Regions from separate parts of the Homo sapiens genome. Here region 2 is linked to region 1. Evidence: fine-mapped expression QTL. A gene starts in region 1. The other region holds a variant in brackets. All regions are shown on one strand. Distances are between the middles of the regions.

Region 1 (10,005 bases):
AAATAACAATAAAGGACATTTGCAGAGTGCTCTACAGAGAGACAAGTGCTTTCCCTTTACTTTATCTTACCCCATTCTCACAACAATCCCCTGACATGATTGGGTTCATGTTTCACAGATGAGGAGGCTAACGGCCAGGTGTACATACCAGGGGACATGGGACTGGGTTCATATGAGCTCAGGGGTAAATGATGACACCCTTTCCCCTGCCCTGAAGGATCTCAGTTTGAGTATTTGTAGCACACTTAGGATGTTCTGGGCCAGGCTGAGTGGCGGTGGATGGGGGCGGTGGAGGTGGGGTATGCAAAGCAGGAAACTCGGCCTTTGCTTTCTAAAAGCTCCCAGTCTATTTGAGGCCAGACTTATGCATGCAGAACATTTGGGAAATGGTACAAGACAGCAGCAAGCATAGTGCTGAATTGCACATAATCAGGTGCCAACTGCATTCCCTTCCTTAACTAATCTGAGTCTTTTAATACCAGATGGGGACCCTGAGAATAGATTTCCTATCAAACAGATGAAGAGCAAAGATGGGAGCCGAGGGAAATGCTGTGGCTTACTCATTTTTATACCCCTGTAACCCAGCATGATGTCTGGCCCACAGCAACAGGAATAGGGCAGTCCACCTTCAATAATGGGCCACTCTATGTGCCAGGCACCTGCTAAGGGCCCCACAAACATCATGTCACCAATCCCTCACAGCAACACTACCACTTACTAAAGGAATTATGAAAGTAATCCACAAGAAGCTGAAAGCAGGGTTCAGAGATCGTACTCATCATGCCCACAGTCTCAGAGTAAAGGGGCAAGCTCAGTGTTTGAACCCAATTCTAGCAGCCTCCCAAATTAATGCTCTCAATCTGACTCTATGCTACCTCTGTGCCTGGAAGGAACTACTGTTGTCCATAAGGATGAGAAGAAACATGGCTAAGGGAGCACTGAGTAGGGAGGAAGGAGGCAGCAGGGAGGAAGAAATAAATTAAGAAAGAAAGAGATACAAAGAGGAAGAAAGGAGAGGGGGAGGGAGGGAAAGAACAGGGCTTGTGTGTTACATAAACTCAGACAAGCACATGCATGTTTTAACAGGATTCCTGCAGGTCTGACAATCTCACTCCTTCCTCCCTGAACAACCTTAGAGGGGTTGCCTAAGGAGTCCTATATAGAGGCTTATGGCAGAAGGAAGGCCTTGCGTCCAGAACTTTCTGAGCTCATGGATTGACACTGGGGTTGCGCATCAGTCTGCTTGGAATGCCTTCAAAAAATACCCCAGTCTGGGTGGCTTATACAACAGAAATCTATTTTCTCATGGTTCTGAAAACTGGAAGTCCAAGATCAAGGTGCCAGCAGGGTTGGTGTCTGGTGAGGCCTCTCACCTTGTGTTGCAACTGCCTTTTCCCTGTGTGCTCACATGGTATCTTTGTGCGTGGGGGGTCTTTGGAGTCTCTCCTTGTAAGGACACTAACTCTATCAGATCAGGGCCCCACCCTTATGACCTCTTTTAACCTTCATTAGTTCCTTAGAGGTCCCTTCTTCAAATACAGCCATACAGGGGCTTAGAGCTTCAACACAGGGATTTTGGAGGGACACAAACATTCAGTCCACACCGGGGTGCATGAGGGAGGGGTCAGAGCTGGAGAAAGTGCATGAGCTAGTTCACCTTCCAGAGTAAAGGGAGCAACAGCCACTGAAGCTCAGGTTGGATGGGGCTGGCAAGGTCGCTGTATTGAGTACATCATGGGAGGGACAACAGGACAAATGGCTCCTGCAGTCAGGGTGACTGATGGGAGGCTTCTTCAGCACTCCCTCTGCACATTCATTTTGTCACTCCCTCTCTCCCCATGCAGTTCTTTGCTCTCTGTTGCAAGTTCCCAGGAGGCAGGCAGAGGGCCTGTTATCATCATCTTTCTCTCTTGCCCCTCACACTTACCTGTGTTCTTCTACTTAGACACATTCTTTGTGAGCATCTCATGGGTGATGTTGGCTGCATTGTACAGTGGGCACGTGCGTATGTGTGTGTATTTATCTGCAAATAATACCCATGTCACAAGGCGTCCGCAGGAATAAATGAGCTATTGTGCATGTAAATATCTGGTACATGGTAGATACATGAATGAATGAATATTTGTTGAATAAATAAGTGAATGAATGAATCTTCACTTGGCAGAGCATGTGTCTTCCTTTAAGGGGCAAGGATGATCTGGTAATCATCAGTTTCTGCTTACTAACTGGGTCACTGAGCAAAGAAAAGAGACTCACTCATTCATTTATTCAGCATAGGTTGGCTGCACCCCTGTCAGAAACCGGAGGTTAAGCAGAAAGTAGAGAGTTAAATCAGTATGTAAAGCAGTTAAAACAGTCCAGAGGGAGAGACAGGCAAGGAAAGGAACAATGAGAAACAAAGTAAGGAGTGCTCTGATAAGAAGCCCTGGGTGCTATGGAAACCACAAGCAGGGCACCGACTCAGGGCCAGGGAGGGATCCCTGGAGGAGATGACATCTGCAGTAGATATTCCAGGGTAAGCAGCAGGTGGCCAGAAGGAGAAAGAGGTGAGGAACATTCCAGGCAAGGGGAACAGCACGTGCAAAGGCCCTGAAGGAGAACCACAACACGCATCTGAGAAATAGTGAGGGGTCTGGGTGGCTGAGCCACAAAGGGAACACCAGGGGTCAGGGAGGATTTGTAGAAGAAGCCACAGGCCACAAAAAAGACCTCATAATTCATGTTCAATGGTTTGGATTTTATTTTGGTGACTTCACTTTATACCTACTGTTCAGAGGCAGCCAATTGCAAACACGTCCAGAAGCACTTTGCTATTTCTGATCTGCAAAATGGAGCAAGTCATCTGTACTCTGCTTCTTCAGTGGGTTGTGGGGAAGCAGAAATGAGAGGATGACATTCTAGCCTTTTGTGACCTCTCAAGTGCTGTCCTTATGGTCATTCAGGTACCATGAAAATTAGCAGAGCCCCAAGGGGGAAGTAGCTTGGTGCTCACCCAGTGGTATCCCTGACAAGTTGGCAAAGACACCCAGGGTGGCTTAACTTTCTCCTCAGCAAAGAGCTCTCCTCTGTTCCCTGAATCCTGGATATCCCACTGGGTCCTCTAGTGACCCCAAGCTTCAGCCTCGCATGCCCTCTTCTCGAACAGAGAAGGCAGGAGGGAAGCAGGGACCAGCCCCTGCTCCATCTTCCAGGATTCCAGGCCTCCCTGGCCTGGACAAGCCCTGAGCTGGCAGTTAGGAGAGCAGAGGTTGTGAATCTGGTGGGACCCCCAGCAGGTCTTTCTGGCTCAGTGCCCTCATCTGTGAGCAGGGGTTCCCCAGGAGACCACGACAGAGGCCTGGAACCCAAGTTCTAATCCCACATCCTGGCTGGGCAACTTCAGGCAAATTTCTAACACAAGGTAAGCCTCAATTTCTCTCTGGGGTAATGATCAGGCACCTGCTTAATTCACAGGGGTTTGGTGGGCATCACGTGGACAATGTGGTTGCACAGCAGTGGGCAATGCAAAGGAAAGGAAGTATGTTAGTAAGTGCCCCTCCCCTGTTGCACAAAACAGGACACATGCTGGGATTGCAGAAAAGCAATAAATGCTGCACAGGTGAAGAAAACTATTCAAGGACCCTGGCCAAGTCACAGGCTACCTGTGGCCCTGAGGGGACAGCTCATGGGTTGGCATTAGGGGAAGCAGCTCTCAAGGGGCCTGTATCCTGGGGATTCAACTCTGTGCCTATGTGGCATTGAGCCTGTGTGAATGTGGTGACTGTCATGCTGTTTTGCTGTGTGTGCGTCTGCATGCCTGTGTGTTTGTGTGTCTCTCCACCTTCGTGGGGGGCAACTGTAGGTGTATTATGAGCCTTGGGTCTGTCTGTGTGTACAATAGCAATGTCTGTGCGGACTTAAGGACCTGCGCCCATATGTTTGTGGGACTTTCTGGGCATGCATGCTTGTTTATGAGGCCATACATCCGGGTATTCTGTGAACTGCTAGCATGGTGTGTATCTGTGTGGCAGACAGAAAATGGCTGGGTGGGATTGTAGGGGGCAGCTTGGGCAAAGGATCCTCAGTGTCAATCAAAATGGGTCTCAGTGGGAACCCAAGCAGCTCAGACTTGGGGGAGGGGAAGCTCTTCCTCCACCTTCCAGGGAGCAAACCTTGCAATTCAACACCACAAGGCTTTGAGTCCACAGGCAGGGACGCAAACTTTGCCCATTGGGTGAGACGCCACTCACAGAAGGGAAATGGCTTCCTAAATCTAATCATTGCCCCTTCAAGCACTAACAACCCGTGCCCAGGAGCTGATGGCTAATGAATTATTGAGCTGGAAAGGGAGAAGAGGTAGAACCAAGGAGGAAAGAAACAGAAAAATGAGAGAGCAGGCCGGGTGGGGTGGCTCTCGCCTGTAATCTCAGCACTTTGGGAGGCCAAGGCGGGTGGATCACCTGAGGTCAGGAGTTCAAGCCCAGCCAGCCCAACATGGCGAAACCCCGTCTCTATTAAAAAATACAAAAAAATTTAGCTGGGCCTAGTGGTGGGCGCCTGTAATCCCAGCTACTCCGGAGGCTGAGGCAGGAGAATCGCTTGAATCTGGGAGGCAGAGGTTGCAGTGAGCAGAGATCGCACCACTGCACTCCAGCCTGGGCAACAGAGCGAGACTCCGTCTCAAAAAAAAAAAAAAAAGAAAAAGAAAAATGAGAGTGTAAGGGCCCAGAGGGGCTGAGGGCTCCTTTCTCCTCCCCAACTCCCTGTCACTAGAAGGTGGGCCCTGCCATAGGAGGATTCTGCAGAACCCTCAAGGACCCGCGGAGCAGGACGGCACCTTCTTCCCATGACCACCCATTTGGATGTGTTTTTCACCCCTTTCTGGGTGGGGCAGACTTTCCCCCTCCCCATGAGTTCAGGCAGTGGGTTAAATAAGATTTCCCTTGAAGTCGAATGAAATCACAATGCACCACACACAGGGACACACACACACACACACGCACGCACGCACATCACACACACACACACACACACACACACACACACACACACATACACACACACAGTCTCCCTGGGGCCAATCTACTGCCCCCTGAACCTCACCCATCAGCCAGGTGCCTGGCCCCGGGTCTGTCTCTTAGGGTTACATGCTCCCGGGGCTCCCGCACATACCCCGGCAGATGAGGGTGCGCAGGGGTGAGGGCGCAGGGCTGGGCGTCCCCCGCCCCCACCGTGCAGCCCTCGCCCCCGCCCCGCCCCTCCGTAGTTGCCCGCCCGCCGCCCCCTCCGCCGCCCCCTCCGCCGCTCCGACTCTCGCCCCGAGCGCTGGCAGCAGGCAGCAGGCAGCAGGCGGGCGCGCTGTGGCTCCGCGCCGCGCGGTCCGGGCTCTGTTCATTCATGATTGGTACTCGGCCCTCCGAGACCCAGCCCGAGCGCAGGGAGGGGAGCCGAGTGTGCGGCAGGAGGGGCGGGCGGACGGCGGCTCCCGCACCGCACGCGGCGCTGGCTCGGCAGCCTCGGCCGGGCGGCCGCTCTGGCCCCGTGTCCAGTGCCAGGCAGGCTTCAGGGCACCGTCCTCGGCCCTGGGCGAGGGAACCGCCGGGCCGGGTCCTCGCGCGGGGAAGCGGTTCCGAAGGCTCGCGGGGAGCGGCTAGCCCTGAGTCCCTGCATGTGCGGGGCTGAAGAAGGAAGCCAGAAGCCTCCTAGCCTCGCCTCCACGCTTGCTGAATACCAAGCTGCAGGCGAGCTGCCGGGCGCTTTTCTCTCCTCCAATTCAGAGTAGACAAACCACGGGGATTTCTTTCCAGGGTAGGGGAGGGGCCGGGCCCGGGGTCCCAACTCGCACTCAAGTCTTCGCTGCCATGGGGGCCGTCATGGGCACCTTCTCATCTCTGCAAACCAAACAAAGGCGACCCTCGAAAGGTAAGCCACCTTCTTCCTTTTGTTCCCCTGTCTGGGCTTGGGGGTGCTAGGCGCCGAGGTGGGCTGTGCCACCTGCCTCCCTTAGTCCGGACTCTCCTCTCCACGAGGAGCCCGGACAGGTGCTTGTATCCAAAGGAGAGAGAAATCGGCGGGAGGGCTGGTGTGAACACCCAGAGGAGGGAGCCGGAGTGGACGTCTGCCCCAGCGGCAACTGGACCCCTCTGGGGCACCAGGTGTCGGGACTCTCCTCCTGGGGAAATCTCTGAGAGCCGAAGGAAGCGGCATGTTCACAGGTGGGGGTGACCGGATTCTCTGGTGGAAGTGTGGTGAAGCTCTTCCCATTCCCATGACAGCTGGCGTTTGAGCACTCAGTGAGGGTGCTGCCACACTCCCACACTCCTCCTAGGCGGCTATGCCAGGTGCAGACCTGCGAGTCCCTTCATCAGGAAGAGTGCTCTGTCTGCACCCCCAAAACCTCTGCAAGCCAAAAGGAATCAGCTGCTGCCAGGGGTAAAACTCCCAGGCCTCATGTCCTGGTGGCTCCGGGAGTCAGGAGGAGCAACCGTGAAGGGCTGGCTGCGAGCTGAGCTTACATCAAGGATTAAAAAGCATAATATCGTGGAGTCTCTTCTGCCTGGACGCTGTTCCTTCACCACCTGTCCCCAGCCGAGGCATGGCTGATCTCACCATCCGTGGGAGAGTCCTCAAATGGGTCCAGGTGAAGTTGGAACCAGTGTGTTGGGCCCTGGAGGACAATGCAGGTCTCCTTACCAGCAGTTCAAAAGTTAGTGGTTGGAATAAAGAGACTGGAAGCAGTTAGGAAACGGGAAATGATGGGTTTTGTTTTGTTTAATGTTCAAATGTCACTACGAGTGGTAAGATTTTAAGCAGCTTGACACTTAAACATTCAAATTCTACCATCAGAGCCCCCATCCTGGATACAGGTGGGAGTTAAGCTCCTACCCTACAGGCCTGATAGTGAGTAGAAGTGTAATGGGGTAAGGGACCCCAAGTGAACAATAAGTCTCCTCTTAGAACTTGGTTGGTCTCACCCTGTTTAGAACCACAGAGATCTCCATAAGTAAGCTGTCCTTGAAACCCCCTGGAAGAAGGGGTCCCAGCTTCTGGCCCAGCTCCCAGGGGCATCAGGCTGGCTGAGCCCCGAGGAAAGAGATCTCTGGGTGCAGATCTTAGGTGCTGAAGCTGGGTTGGCATTTACATCCTAGAACATAGGAAGAGGCTTTGGCCCATTTGTCCAGCTGAGTTACATGTCCTGCTGGCAAGGAAGGGACTGGTTGTCCTGTTACCAGTCCTGACCAGAACAGGTCTGCAAAGCTCAGCCCAAGGCCTTGACATTCTAAGCCTCACCTCTCACAGATCCTGGGATGCTGCTTGACTGGGGACAATTTTCAGCGCCAAATATAGGTCTTCTCCCTCATCATCTGTCTGACCACCATGCGGTCTCAGAGGCCAGGGGACTGTGGGGACAGGAAAGTCAGGGGCTTGTTTTTAAATATTTTCAATGCCTGTGGCTCTCCTGGGAGCTGGGTGTCACAGAAAGATCTCAAGCCCTAGAGTCAAGTGGAGTCTGGGTGTGAATCCCAGCTCCATCACTCCCTGCCTCTGGGACCTTAGGAAAGTCCCCCGCACCTCCCTAAGCCTCAGTTTTTCATCCATGAAATTCGTATGCTACTTCCCGGAGGGAAGGGTATGTAGGAAGTAGAGGAAGGGAAGACTCTGCCTCATATACTGTGTTGGCTGCAGCCACCAGGGACCCAGAGGAAGTTGTTGTAAGGATGTGAGAATCAAATGAATGATGAATAGGGAGCTCCGTGCATAGGGCTGGGAAAAGAGTAAGAGCTCAGACATTGCTGTCTACCATTTCCTTCTCCTGCCCCAAACATCCAGGAATTCACCCTGGATGAATTCCTGCAGGATTCCCAGAGTACAAAGGTCTTTGCTTCTGTCTCCTCGGATTCTAAGAAACAGAAGAGGGGGTACTGGCATTCAGTGTGTCCCTACTGTGTGCTTGCCATAATGCTCGGTGTTTTATCAACAACTCTCATTTAACCCTCACAACAATGTTCGTTTGAGGCTCATAGCAGGTTCGGGGCCAATGGGTGGACTCCCAAGACAAGCTATCGAAGCACTGGGCACTCAGCCCTTCCTGCACAAAGCCCACTGGCGTGAGTTGTCCAGGGGTCCAGCTGCATATGTTCCCCCAGGTATTTGCCCCCGAAGCACAGTCATCTCACTGCCTTGCATAGTGGAATGCTAATCAGCAGAAGACCCTTCTATGGGAGGCAGCTTGGAAACCTGGAGGAAGCCCTGGCTGAGGAGGCTAGTGGTCAGGGAGCCTATCCTGGCCAGGTCACTTTTCCCCACTGGGGCCTCGGTTTCTTCTTTGTAAAGGGAGAAACTTACATTAGGCATTTCCTCAGGTTCCATTTGGTTCTCAAATTCTAATATTTTTATGGTTGATGCTCTCACCAGAGCTGCTGCTATGATCTCAGAGACGTGAGGCTCAGATCTAATTAGAAGCAACCGGAAGAGAGCAGTTGGGATTTTTCAACTCAGGAATCAGTCTCCCTGCTGGGTTCAAATTCAGGCTCTGCCACTTACTAGCTGTATGACTAAGCCTTGTTTTCCTCAACTATAAAACAGAGATAGTAGTAGTTACCATCTTAAAATAGCTGTTGTGTTGTGTGGATTTCAAGGATCATGCAAGTCAAGCATTTAGCACAGTCTCTGCTACATAAGTGGTCAGCAAATTTGAGGTACTATTCAATTTATGGCTCTATTGTTTGGGGCTTCCAAATGTCCAGAGTAAGGCCATTTTCGAAGTAGGCAGTACATCTGAGAGCCTTAACAGCTCATTTCTGGAAACCTTATCCAGCCCTATCCAGATAACTAGGACCAAAAACCCCAGCACACAGATGCTCGTCCCTTGCTTCAACCCTCACTGACCTCTACTCTGTGGCTTGTCCTGAAAACATCAAAGCCTGCTCAATTAAAATCCTGAATGCCTTGATAATACAATTTAGAAACATACATAGTTTTTAAATAGGGCAAAAACTCTGCATGATTAGTGCTGCAAGAAGATATCCAGCCCAACCTGGGTGTTCAGGGAGCGCTCTCTAAAGGCAACAGAAATCTAAAGTAATTTAAGAGCCATGCCACTGAATAAAAATATTCAGGTTCATTTCCTGTCCTTCTCTCTGTTTGGGATCTTTGTGTGTCTTTAATTAAAAGTAGGAGAGCCCTGCTTTTGGGATTCAGCCTCTGCATCCCAGTCCCAGATAGAATTTCTGACTCTAGCAGTTTTGCATGTGCATGACACACCAAGGACACTGCTCCTGGCCTTGAATGGGTAAGTGAGACAGGCTAGGGCATTGAGGAGAACCAGAGGAGGACCATACAGGTGCAGCTGCTGGGCTTGTCAGCGGGGCAGGAGAATTTAGGGACAACATCACTAGACCAAGGCCATCTCAACAGAGAATTGCCTAGAAGCAAATAATCCCACACTACAGGGGTGGCTGGGTTAGAAATCCTCCATGACCGAGTGCAAGCATGCAGAACTTTCTGAAAGGGCTGAGCTTCGGATCTCCAGAATAGTCATAGCATAGGTGAGCTATGACTCAACCCCATGGCTATCAGATGCTTTTTCTAAGGCCACACGGTGAGTTAATAGGGTACTGGTTAATATAGGGCCAAACATGGGAATGTTCCCGATAGTCCCATATTTGCTCCTAGATCAATGAGCACCTCAGGGAACTTATGGAAGCAGAGTGTACCTGATGAGACTGGGTTTAGGGTTTATTGGTCAGGGCAGCATTTTCAACCTAAAGATATGGGAGAGTGACAAGAGACAGACAGGCATAGAGAAGCAGTAGCCGTGTTGTCACATAGTCCTGAGCCCAAGGGGCAGGCCTTTGGCAAGTCATTTCACCTTGTAAATGCTAGTTTCTTTATCTGCAAAAGGAGAATCCTGATGTATAGAAATGTTTGTGCTTTGGTCTTTACCCATCTTTGCATCTTTGCCTGTCCCTTTAATTCTATAATGCTCTCCCACCCCACCCCTTGCTGCCTTGTCTAATAGTTAAA
Region 2 (10,005 bases), 23 kb before region 1:
ACAGGGAAATAGAGGAGATAAAAATAACAAAACAAAAGGAGAAGTCACAAAGTTACAGGAAATCTCAATATATCTTTCTGTTCTGGATGCTGCTCCAAACACAACTGCAGCAGGGCCTCTTTGTGGGGGGTTCTTATTTGAGAGCCACAAAGGACCTCAAAGCCAAAACAGACTGATTATCTAGCCCACCTCCATGTCCTCCCCTCCTTCCCCCTACTTCCTTACTAACAGACCCAATTTTGTTCAGGAATCCACCCCCTGCCGAGAAGAAACTGATCCTATTCCCAGCTCAGAGCCAAATCCTGAATCATCCAATATTACCCCCTTGTCAGGAGTAGGTTGAGGGGTGACAAGTGGCCCATGCTTTTTCTGGGGTCAGGGAGAAGAAATGATTATTAGAACAATTTTGGTTTAAACTTTTTTTTTTTTTTTGAAACAGGGTCTCACTCTGTCACCCAGGCTGGAATGCAGTGGTGCGATCTCAGCTCACTGCAGCCTCAACCTCTGCAGCCTCAAGTGATTCTCCCACCTCAGCCTCCTGACTAGCTGTGACTACAGGCCTGTGCCACCATGCCTCGCTAATTTTTGTATTTTTTGTAGAGACAGTGTTTTGCCATGTTGCCCAGGATGGTCTTTCACTTCTGAGCTCAAGCAATCCATCAGCCTTGGCCTCCCAAAGTGCTGGGATTACAGGCATGAGCTACTGCACCCAGCCTAAACTTGTTTCTAATTAGCAGTTCCAAATTTTTAGATGCTCATATCTCTGACTAATTACAATAACAGATGATGAAATATCGAAGTGTTGAACTGTCCTCTCAATTCCAGCCGGAACAAACAGATTCTGTTTTCTCTACATTTTGACTGAACTGTCTTGGTGTCATACATTAGATGGTAAACTTCTCCTCTGTTCCAATCTCCCCCTTCTTCATGGCTAATTAGTTAAAAGCACACTGTTGATAAACACAATATGAATAGAAAAATTTTTGTTTAGCCTTAAAAAATAGCAGTATGACAATTTGTCTTGAATTTTGACCTTTCAGTGGTGGCTTGTATCAAAGTTACGGTCTTGGGATAGTGCTATGACCCGCTGAAATGGCTGCGGGCCTGAAATTTTGATCGTAAGGCAAATTTTGGTACAGAAAATCGCCTGTTTCTGCTGACTTCTGCTTTAGACATCCACTCTTAAGGAAAAGCATTGTTATCCCACCAGCTAACACATCACTCTCTACCATATATCAAAGAGTCTCAAGATCCTTCTATTCATGAAAAATGAAAATATTCTCACCACATCCTCGCAGTAATGTTCAACATAAATTACCAAGCACAGAGACAGTTTGGGAATGTACATTATAAATGGCCTTCCCTACAAGACTAAGAGTGAATCCTAATGTAAACTATAGACTTTGGGTGGTAATAATGTGTTAATGTCGGTTGACAGATTGTAATAAATGCACCGCTGTAATGTGGAATGTTGAAGTGAGGGAAGCTGTAAGTGTATGGAGACAGATAAATGGGAATTCTCTGTACTTTCTGCTCAATTTTACTGTGAACCTAAGACTGCTCAAAAAAGTAGAAGTAAGTAAATACATAAGTCAGTAAATAAATGGCCTTTTCTTGGGCTGAGAAATGAAGACATTTCCTATATGTTACTTGGACCTGTAAATTCACTCTGGGGAGATATATATATATATCAGAAAGTATATGTTACTTGGACCTGTAAATTCACTCTGGGGATGTGTGTGTATATATATATACACATATATATTACATATATATATATACACATATATATTAGAAAGTAAATATTTCTTGTTAAAATCTGAGATATAACTGCCCTCTAAAGGTGTTTATTTCCTGGGTTGGCTTTTTTGTTTTGTTTTGTTTTGTTTATTTGTTTTTGAGGCAGAGTCTCGTTCTGTAGCCCAGGCTGGAGTGCGGTGGCACAGTCTCCACTCACTGCAACCTCCACCTCCTGGGTCCCAGTTCAAGCAATTCTCCTGCCTCAGCCTCCCAAGTAGCTGGGATTACAGGCACATGCCACCATGCTCAGCTAATTTTTGTATTTTTTAGTAGAGACACAGTTTCACCGTGTGGGCCAGGCTGGTCTTGAACTCCTGACCTTGTGATCTGCCTGCCTCGGCCTCCCAAAGTGCTGGGATTAGAGGTGTGAGTGAAAGCACCTGGCCGGGTTGGCTCTTATCTATTTACTTGATAGCCAGGTTTGGAGTCATTAGTGGCTGTTGCTTACTCCTTGAACAAACATTTTTGAGTGTTGTGCTGTACAGGCCACTGGATAGATAGCGATGAATCCCACACAGTCCTGTCCTCAGAGCCCACATCTTCATAGATCTATAAATTAATATTTGCAGTAGAGTATGACAAAAAAACTCCAATAGAAGTGCCTCCAGGGAAGATGGTACCAATTGAACTGGTTGCTGGGGAGGTGTCAGGGGAGGGTTCATGGCAGAAGCCTCATTGAAGGATCTCAGAATTTCATGCCTCCTGGGAGGTTCAGTCCAAGACACCTACCTCCATCTTTCAGTGCAGAGGGCACATGAGGGGACCTGCCAAGATGAAGCCAGAGAGGCAACAGTGGTCAAATGATAGAAGGCCTGGGGCGGGAAGGGGCAGGTAAAGATTTGGGGCTTTATCCAAATGGACTTTATTGTAGTTGTATTCATTTGATACCTTTTGTAAGTTCCTTGTTTAGTTATTACATGATTATCATAAAGTTTGGGAGCATAATGGTTAGAAAGATATCACAGACTTAGGAAAAGGATGCATGTTCCTTTAATTTGGCTCTTTTAATGGACTGAGAGACTATGCAACGCTCATGGCTGGAGGACAAGCTTCCCCGGCCTTCCAGTCCCATAAGGACACCTGCTGTTAATGGCAGTCCTGATGGAGTGTAGATCCCTCGGGCTGCCATCCTCACAAAGGTGTGTTACTTTCTGGCTGGCAGCTCCAGATGGCCCTAGGGACTCTGAACTCAGCCTGTGTCCGAAGGCTTACTGCAAGACTGTGCGACTCCACCATGGTCAGTTTCCCCGGGGAACCATCTCTCTACCAAGCCCAGTTTTCCATTGCAAGAACAATTGCCAAGATGTCTAAGTTTCTATGTGAGAATTTTGGCATCTTGGGTTCCTTTTAAATAGGACACACTTGTATGCTCTAAAGAAAAAAAGAAAAGGTTTCTCATGAAGCATTAGCTTTCAAGATTACAGTTCGGTAGGATGTTCAAGATGCTTAGGGTGAATAAAAATGACAGACAGCTGAACACTTCCTATAAATGAAACACCAATATAGATCTAAGTTTCATGCATGACTCTCAATGTGGTTAATGAAAAGGAAGATAAAAAAAAAAAAGGTTGGCCATATTTGCAGGGCATTTGCTCCCAAATGTTTCAATCCTGTTTTCTTTAGACTTTGAAAAGGGGGATTGCACGTTATCTGTCAAGAAGGCATCAAAGCAGAGAAATCCACAAATGTGTAGTGTCAGATAGAATTCAAGCCTTCAGAAAGGACTCCACTCCTTTGGTTACTAAGAGAACTAGGGGCTTGTATTTCTAAGATGTCACTAGCTGGAGGCGCTGAGCAGGTAATGGTCTATGTTTTCCTAGACTATAAAATCCTGATTATATGGTTTAATAAAATAAGAATCTCAGAGTTCTGATGGAAAACAAGTAAACTTCAGGTCTTAGCAGGCACTAGCAGAAAGCACCAGAGAAAACTGGGGGAGAGGTTAGGACTCCTGTCCCAAAGATCCCCCTCAATTATCCTGCCATGTTATCAGTTCCCTCTTTACATGTTACCAAACATGACTACTAATTTCTATTTTTTTCCAAGACTATTAGATGTATTCAAAATTCACTCTTCTTACAAGGATAGAGAAAAGTGCCTATCGATGCTTAATAACCCAACATATATTTAATAGAAGAATTAAATCACCTTCTGCAAAGGACCAAGAAAAGCTCCATTTGATCAATTCCTTTAAGACATGAAGACTTCTCCTTTTCTAAGAATCGCCATAGTAAAATGCAAGCTCAGCATGACATACCCCAAGGAAAAATGTATCTGTCCCTTCTGCTTTTACTACAGTTCCATAAGGGTAATACCGAGTTGTTTTGCCCACATGGGGGCTCTGGAATCTTGGCTGTGATGCATTGGTAGGATATTTGTCACCAAAACTGACTCAGCAATCAGTTAAATATTAAACAAAGCACTGATTAGTGTTCCTGATTCATATTTGTGCTTTGTTTAACATTTAACTTCCGAATTTTATACATCTATTAAACAATATTCCTCTTGACATTCGAACACTATCTGCACAATTAATAAATCAAAAACTTATTAAAAATTGAAACAATTAAAAATTCCCAAACTTATAAACCATTGTTTACAAAATTATTTAACCACACTCTCCAACACTTTTAAATAAAACCATAAGTTTAATATGTCAGACCCTTTTAAATGTTTCAAACACCTAAAAAGTCAGCAAAAATGCACACAAAACGTCATACTGATTGAAAAATATATATGCACACTTACCTTTACACTGGTTACAAAGGCATGAAGATTATGGGTATATATTGGTTTTAAAAAGTACTTTTATACTTATTCTTATATTTTCTCTGTTACTTTCTTAGAGTCAATGCGATCGTTTCCTAGGATTAGAGTATGAAGTGATACAGTTTCTCCTAAGAATACAAATTTCTTTCAGAACCAAAAGAAAAATAATCTCAGGCCAGCCAGCTCTGGGGTTACTGATTCTTATTTGAAACTGATAAAGTGTCTCCCAACATTATTGCACTTGAGCTTAAATGTGG[C/CCTGA]CTAAGAATATAAAAGTCCGTGCCTTCACATTGGTATCCTTTTCTGAGACCAGAGTGTTTCCTAAAGTGCGCTTCATCTCCTAGGAGACTAGGGATTTTTTTTTTTTTTTTTTGAGACAAAGTCTCGCTCTATCACCCAGGCTAGAGTGCAGTGTTGTGATCTCGGCTCACTGCAGCCTCTGCCTCCTGGGTTCAAGAGATTCTCATGCCACCACGCCTGGTTAATTTTTTGTATTTTTTGTATTTGAGATGGGGTCTCTCCATATTTCACAGGCTGGTCTCAAACTCCCAGGATCAAGTGATCCACCCACCTCAACCTCCCAAACTGCTGGGATTACAGGCGTGAGGCACTGCACCCGGCCAAGACGAGGAATTTAAACCCTGCAGTTTGCTGTCCTTACGAGCACATTTGGCCAATTATCCTTCCATGTTATCAGTTCCCTCTTTACATGTTACCAAGCATGACTACTAATTTCTATTTTTTTCCAGGACTATTAGTTGTATTCAAAATTCACTCTTTCCTTCTTACAAGGATAGAGAAAAGTGCCTATCGATGCTTAATAACCCAACATATATTTAATAGAAGAAATAATATCACCCATATATAAATCTGCCATTAAAAATAATATGAAATAAAACCCTATCGCATTTGCCATTTACATCAACTTTTCTCTTCATAGCTTCATTAGGAACTTACAGCTCTTCACAGACTCCATGTGTTTTAATTGATTATAGCCATCAATCTTATTTGATATTCAAAATCTCAGAGCTTGACCAGAGGAAACCTCTTTAATCTAGCTTCTTAGTCCTTCCAGAACCACCCTGTGATATTCTAGAAAGCATCCTTGCTTTCTGGTTACAAAAGAAACTTCCAGGCTTAAACCATTTGTTTTACCCTACTCAGGACAACCCTTCCAAAGAGCCCCTGTTTCTTTAAGTGGAGAAAACTGTTAGAGACAAAGTCTGGCCATTTAGGGGTACAGGAGAGTTGTGGTGGGCATTAGTACTACTCCTGCTGCTGCTGCTGCTGCTGCTGCTGTGTCCACTGTTAGTGACAGAAGTGGGAAAATATTTAAGTTGAGTTCACATTAGTGTTCCCAGTTTAGCGTGAGCATTGCTCCATTATGTTGTTCTAATGTAAAAATGTCAAACACATTTTTCTCAATGAGATACTTAACATTTTAACCCTTCATCCAAGCTATATGTTACACCTCACTTTTCTATAGTTGTATATTTAGAAAATAAATATTTATGAAATACTTGATATTTCTCATCAATCCTTGGTCACTCAATTGAAGGGTGTAGAAGTAAGGTCAGGTTCACCTTAGTGAGGGGCCTGCATCTAACCTTATCTGAAGGGGCTTATGAATTTGGGATTTATTACCTTGACAGAAAGAAATATTGAGAATGACCCCACCCATGCTTTATAGCAATCGCTCTTTATAGTTTATTTCATAGTGACAAGAAGGAACTCATCCATGGTGGGTTTTTCCCTGAGTGGTCTGTATGGTCATATCAGAACTGAAATCATCCCTTCTTGCTTCTGAGCCCCCGTTTCCAAGTCTTGTTCTTTGTTTCTGTAGGTAGTAAAGTGAATTCTTTAAATCCCTGCCCTCCATCAGCTGCTAAAGCATTCTGCTTCCCTCTGATAAGATTAACAGAATGTTGGCTGTGGTTACGGGATGCTTTGCAGTCTATGTCTTAAACCAAGCCAGCCATGTTAGCATTTCCTCTAGTGGTGGTGTTTTAGGCCAATTGAGAATGTGGGTGATATTAATATTTTCCAACCAGCTGATAACAGGAAAGACACTTCTGCTTGGAGTCCACTTTGAGAAGAGATTTATTATTTAGGCAGCACAGGACACCTCCATTAATCTTCCCCCAGCAGTGCCCATCTACCATCAAGTTCATATACTTTCCCCAGGGTTCAAAGAAGGGTATAATTTTAGCCAGCGATTAGTCAATATTTATCAATAAGAATAATAACAGTAAAATTACAATGGCCAATGTTTGAATCCCTAATGTGTGCCAGGCACAGTACGGGGCCTTTTGCAGCTATTATATCATAAAACCCTTACAACAGCCCCATGAAATTTGCACCATGATTTGCTTCATTTTACTTTTGGGGAAACCACGGATCAAGTAACTGAAGTGATTTCTCTAGGACTCACAGATGAGCGGTGGCAGAGCCTGGAATTAGATATATCTGATGTTAGTGTTTTGAGGAATCACTCTCCCCAAAAGCCATAGCTCCCAGACATTCTTATGTAATTTGTCTTTGCTGAGGCTTGGGTATTGATGATTTAAAAGTCCCCAGAGACCAGATTTCATCTGGTATGCTGTGGGAGTCAAGTAACGTCCAAGGCCAAGCCTGTCTGAGAGAGGTTTTTATTAGCTCCAAAATTATAATAACTTCCACAGCCTTCTTCCACCAATTCTGCCTTCCACTGAAACAGCGCTGGTGATGTTTAGAGGTATGAGTTTGGGACAATTATCAGGAGAAGCATTTTGGTGCTATTGTCCCACCCCTTCTGTCCTGAGAGGTTTTATCTGGTCTTTCAGTATTTCAAATAGGTCATGACTAGATTCCATGCATCCCTAGAAAACATAGCCTAAATTTTAAATTAAAGTATGAGGTGGAAGAAACAGCCTTTCTTCCCTTTTGTTTCCAAGGACAGATGGAGTCAAAAGTGGAACTGGGGCCCGCAGAGCCGGATAGCTTGGGCAGTACGTGTGTGCACCTGCAGGCTGTGGAGACAGGTATTTCCATGGAGCTCACTCGCCCTGCCTCTCATCCAGGCCTGAAAATCATAGGTAACTATGAGGCAAGAGGAACCCAGGGTGGTGGGAACACCCTAGGGTGATCCCAGGCTGGGGACCTTTGGACTAAAAAGATGAAAGCCAACATTCCCTCCCCAGGAGGAGATGCAACTCCTGCACTCTCTAGTGACCATCACTGGGATATTGCACAGATCTGCAGTCACCTTCTAAATCCCCTTAAAGTGGACCTAGCCATCCTCTCCATTTTAAGACCACATCTCCTGTCTGCTACAGCCCCTCTCGCTTCTTTTTCTTTAAGGATATCTGGCTGGTTGTATTGGGTTAACATGCAAGAAGAGAGTACCAATCACTCCATAACTTGGGTAATGCATGTCAATGGTGATCTGTGTGGGGCCGCAAGGTTCCAGATGGTTGGGACAACTCTACAATCAGTCACATTTGGGTTGGTTAAATCCCCCACTCATCTTTACAGCTGTATCCTGCAAGTTAGTGGCTGCCTGTCTCTGAACTTCACCTTCCTTATGGTTGTCAAAAATACCTCCATGGGATAAAAACGCAGCATCTGTAGATTCCCAAATAGGTGCAAGTAGATTCCCAAATAGGTGCAAATAGGTTCATTCGTTGGTTCATTCTGCAGTCAGGGAGCTTTCAGTCTACTGGCATGCAAGACGCAATGATAATGAGAATACTTCACAATGAGTGTGACGTGATGACTGATGAATGTGACAAAGGAGAAGTAGGATGCACTTAGACAGCCTGGGGGAATTGAGTTGTGGCCAGAAGGGAGAGAGAGTGTCCATTCTCCACCTCATCACTTTGCTGCCAAGAGAAACAGGAATTTCTTAGACAAGTTCTCAGGTCCCTCGGTGAGACTGGCAGCCTAAAAAAGGCACCAGGGAGCAGGGGGCACTCACATCATGCCATCCCCCCACAGAGCATCCCGCTGGCCATCTGCATCAGCCCGACCCCCACAGGATAGAAGACTGGCACATCCAAGTTGCTCCTTCCACACCCTCTCCCCACTGAGGCCTCGTCTCCTCCGCCCTGTGGCCAATTGAAGGTGAACTCCTAACGTGCATTCTGCCTGGGATCCCAGAGGTTGTGGCAGCCAGATGAGTCACCTCACAAATACAGCACGTGTTCCTCGGGGGCGGCGGTGGGAGGAAACACGTGAAGAGCTCTCTCTGTGATAATAGACCATTTAGAGCTTCAGATGGCGAAAACAAGCTGATCAGGTGCAGGCCCTCCAGGAGGCTGGCAGGTGACTCCCAGCCAGCACGCCCTCCATCGCACGTTGGGGAAGCTGGAAAGAGCCTGGTGGCTGCCGGGCCTCCCTCTGGCATCCTCTCTCCCTCCAAGGCTGTGTGCTCCCCACCTTGTCTCTCCTTTTTTCATTCCATTGCTCTGTTCTGTTTCTGTCTACCCATTCGTCTTTTCTTCCTCTTCTCTTTCTGTTGCCATTCTCTTTCTCTTCTCCTCTCAACATGTCCTTCTCTCTACCCGTTTCCCCCTCCCCTTCTCTCTCTCCTCCCTCTTTCCCTCTCCCTCTCTTCCTTTCCCAAATCTCTCTTAGCCAGGCTCCTTTTCGCCCTTTGCCTCTCAAACCCTCCTCCACCTTTCCACCCTCTCTCTGCGTTCTGCTTCTCCCTTCTTCCTTCCGTGTCTCTGGCTCACTTATCTGCCCTCTCCACATCTTCTTCCATTTGCCACCCTCCCTCTCTGTAGCCACACCCAGTGGGCTCAGAGCTGGGTCTTTCTTTTTTTTGTTTTTTCTTTTTTCTTTTTTTTTTTTTTTGAGATGGAGTTTCACTCTTGTTGCCCAGGCTGGAGTGCAGTGGCGCAATCTCCACTCACTGCAATCTCTGCCTCCTAGTTTCAAGCAATTCTCTTGCCTCAGCCTCCTGAGTAGCTGCGATTACAGTCATGCGCCACCACGCCCGGCTAATTTTGTATTTTTAGTAGAGACGGGATTTCTCCATGTTGGTCAGGCTAGTCTCAAGCTCCCGACCTCAGGTGATCTGCCTGCCTCGGCCTCTCAAAGTGCCAGGATTATAGGTGTAAGCCACCGCACCCAGCCAGATCTAGGTCTTTCATCCCCCTACACAACCCTGGCCTGGCCTGGGCCTCTGGTCTTGGGCCTGGAAGGGAGTCCCATCCTCCCTCCCTCAGCTGGATTTCTTAAGGATAAAACCTTTGCTCCTTCCTTCACCACACCTCTCCACATCCCAAACTCAAGCCCACAGAGCCCAGCTCTGGGCCCAGGGTGTGGACGGGGAGGGTGGCTGGTGGCCCAGAGCTGAGCCCTGTGAGTCAACAGCATGCCTAGACTCACACACAGACACATGGCCCACCTTCAGGGTCATGAGGATTCATAAACCCTATTCTGCGAAGTGCCTCC

Direction of the effects. Positions count from the first base shown, and alleles are read on the strand shown. Sizes are in standard deviations (SD) of each study's normalised expression.
For the expression in amygdala of the gene that starts at base 5,288 in region 1, CCTGA is the high allele of the variant in region 2 and C is the other (moderate effect, 0.42 SD a copy in GTEx).

The links. PIP is the estimated chance that this variant, and not a neighbour inherited with it, causes the effect. A credible set is the group of variants that fine-mapping cannot tell apart.
Region 2: its variant is the best candidate, but not a certain one, in a credible set for the expression of KCNIP1 in amygdala (GTEx, PIP 0.57).

What each region holds. Positions count from the first base shown.
Region 1 is chr5:170,498,733-170,508,737 of GRCh38, forward strand. It overlaps KCNIP1 (potassium voltage-gated channel interacting protein 1), which reads left to right and starts at 5,288. Exons shown (of 8, transcript NM_014592.4): 1 at 5,288-5,901. The coding sequence starts at 5,841.
Region 2 is chr5:170,475,556-170,485,560 of GRCh38, forward strand. It overlaps a transcript of KCNIP1 not described here. Among named protein-coding and RNA genes, the nearest start is that of KCNIP1, 23 kb to the right of the region's middle. RefSeq lists an enhancer at 9,415-9,915. The variant C/CCTGA (reference allele first, on the strand shown) is at 4,827.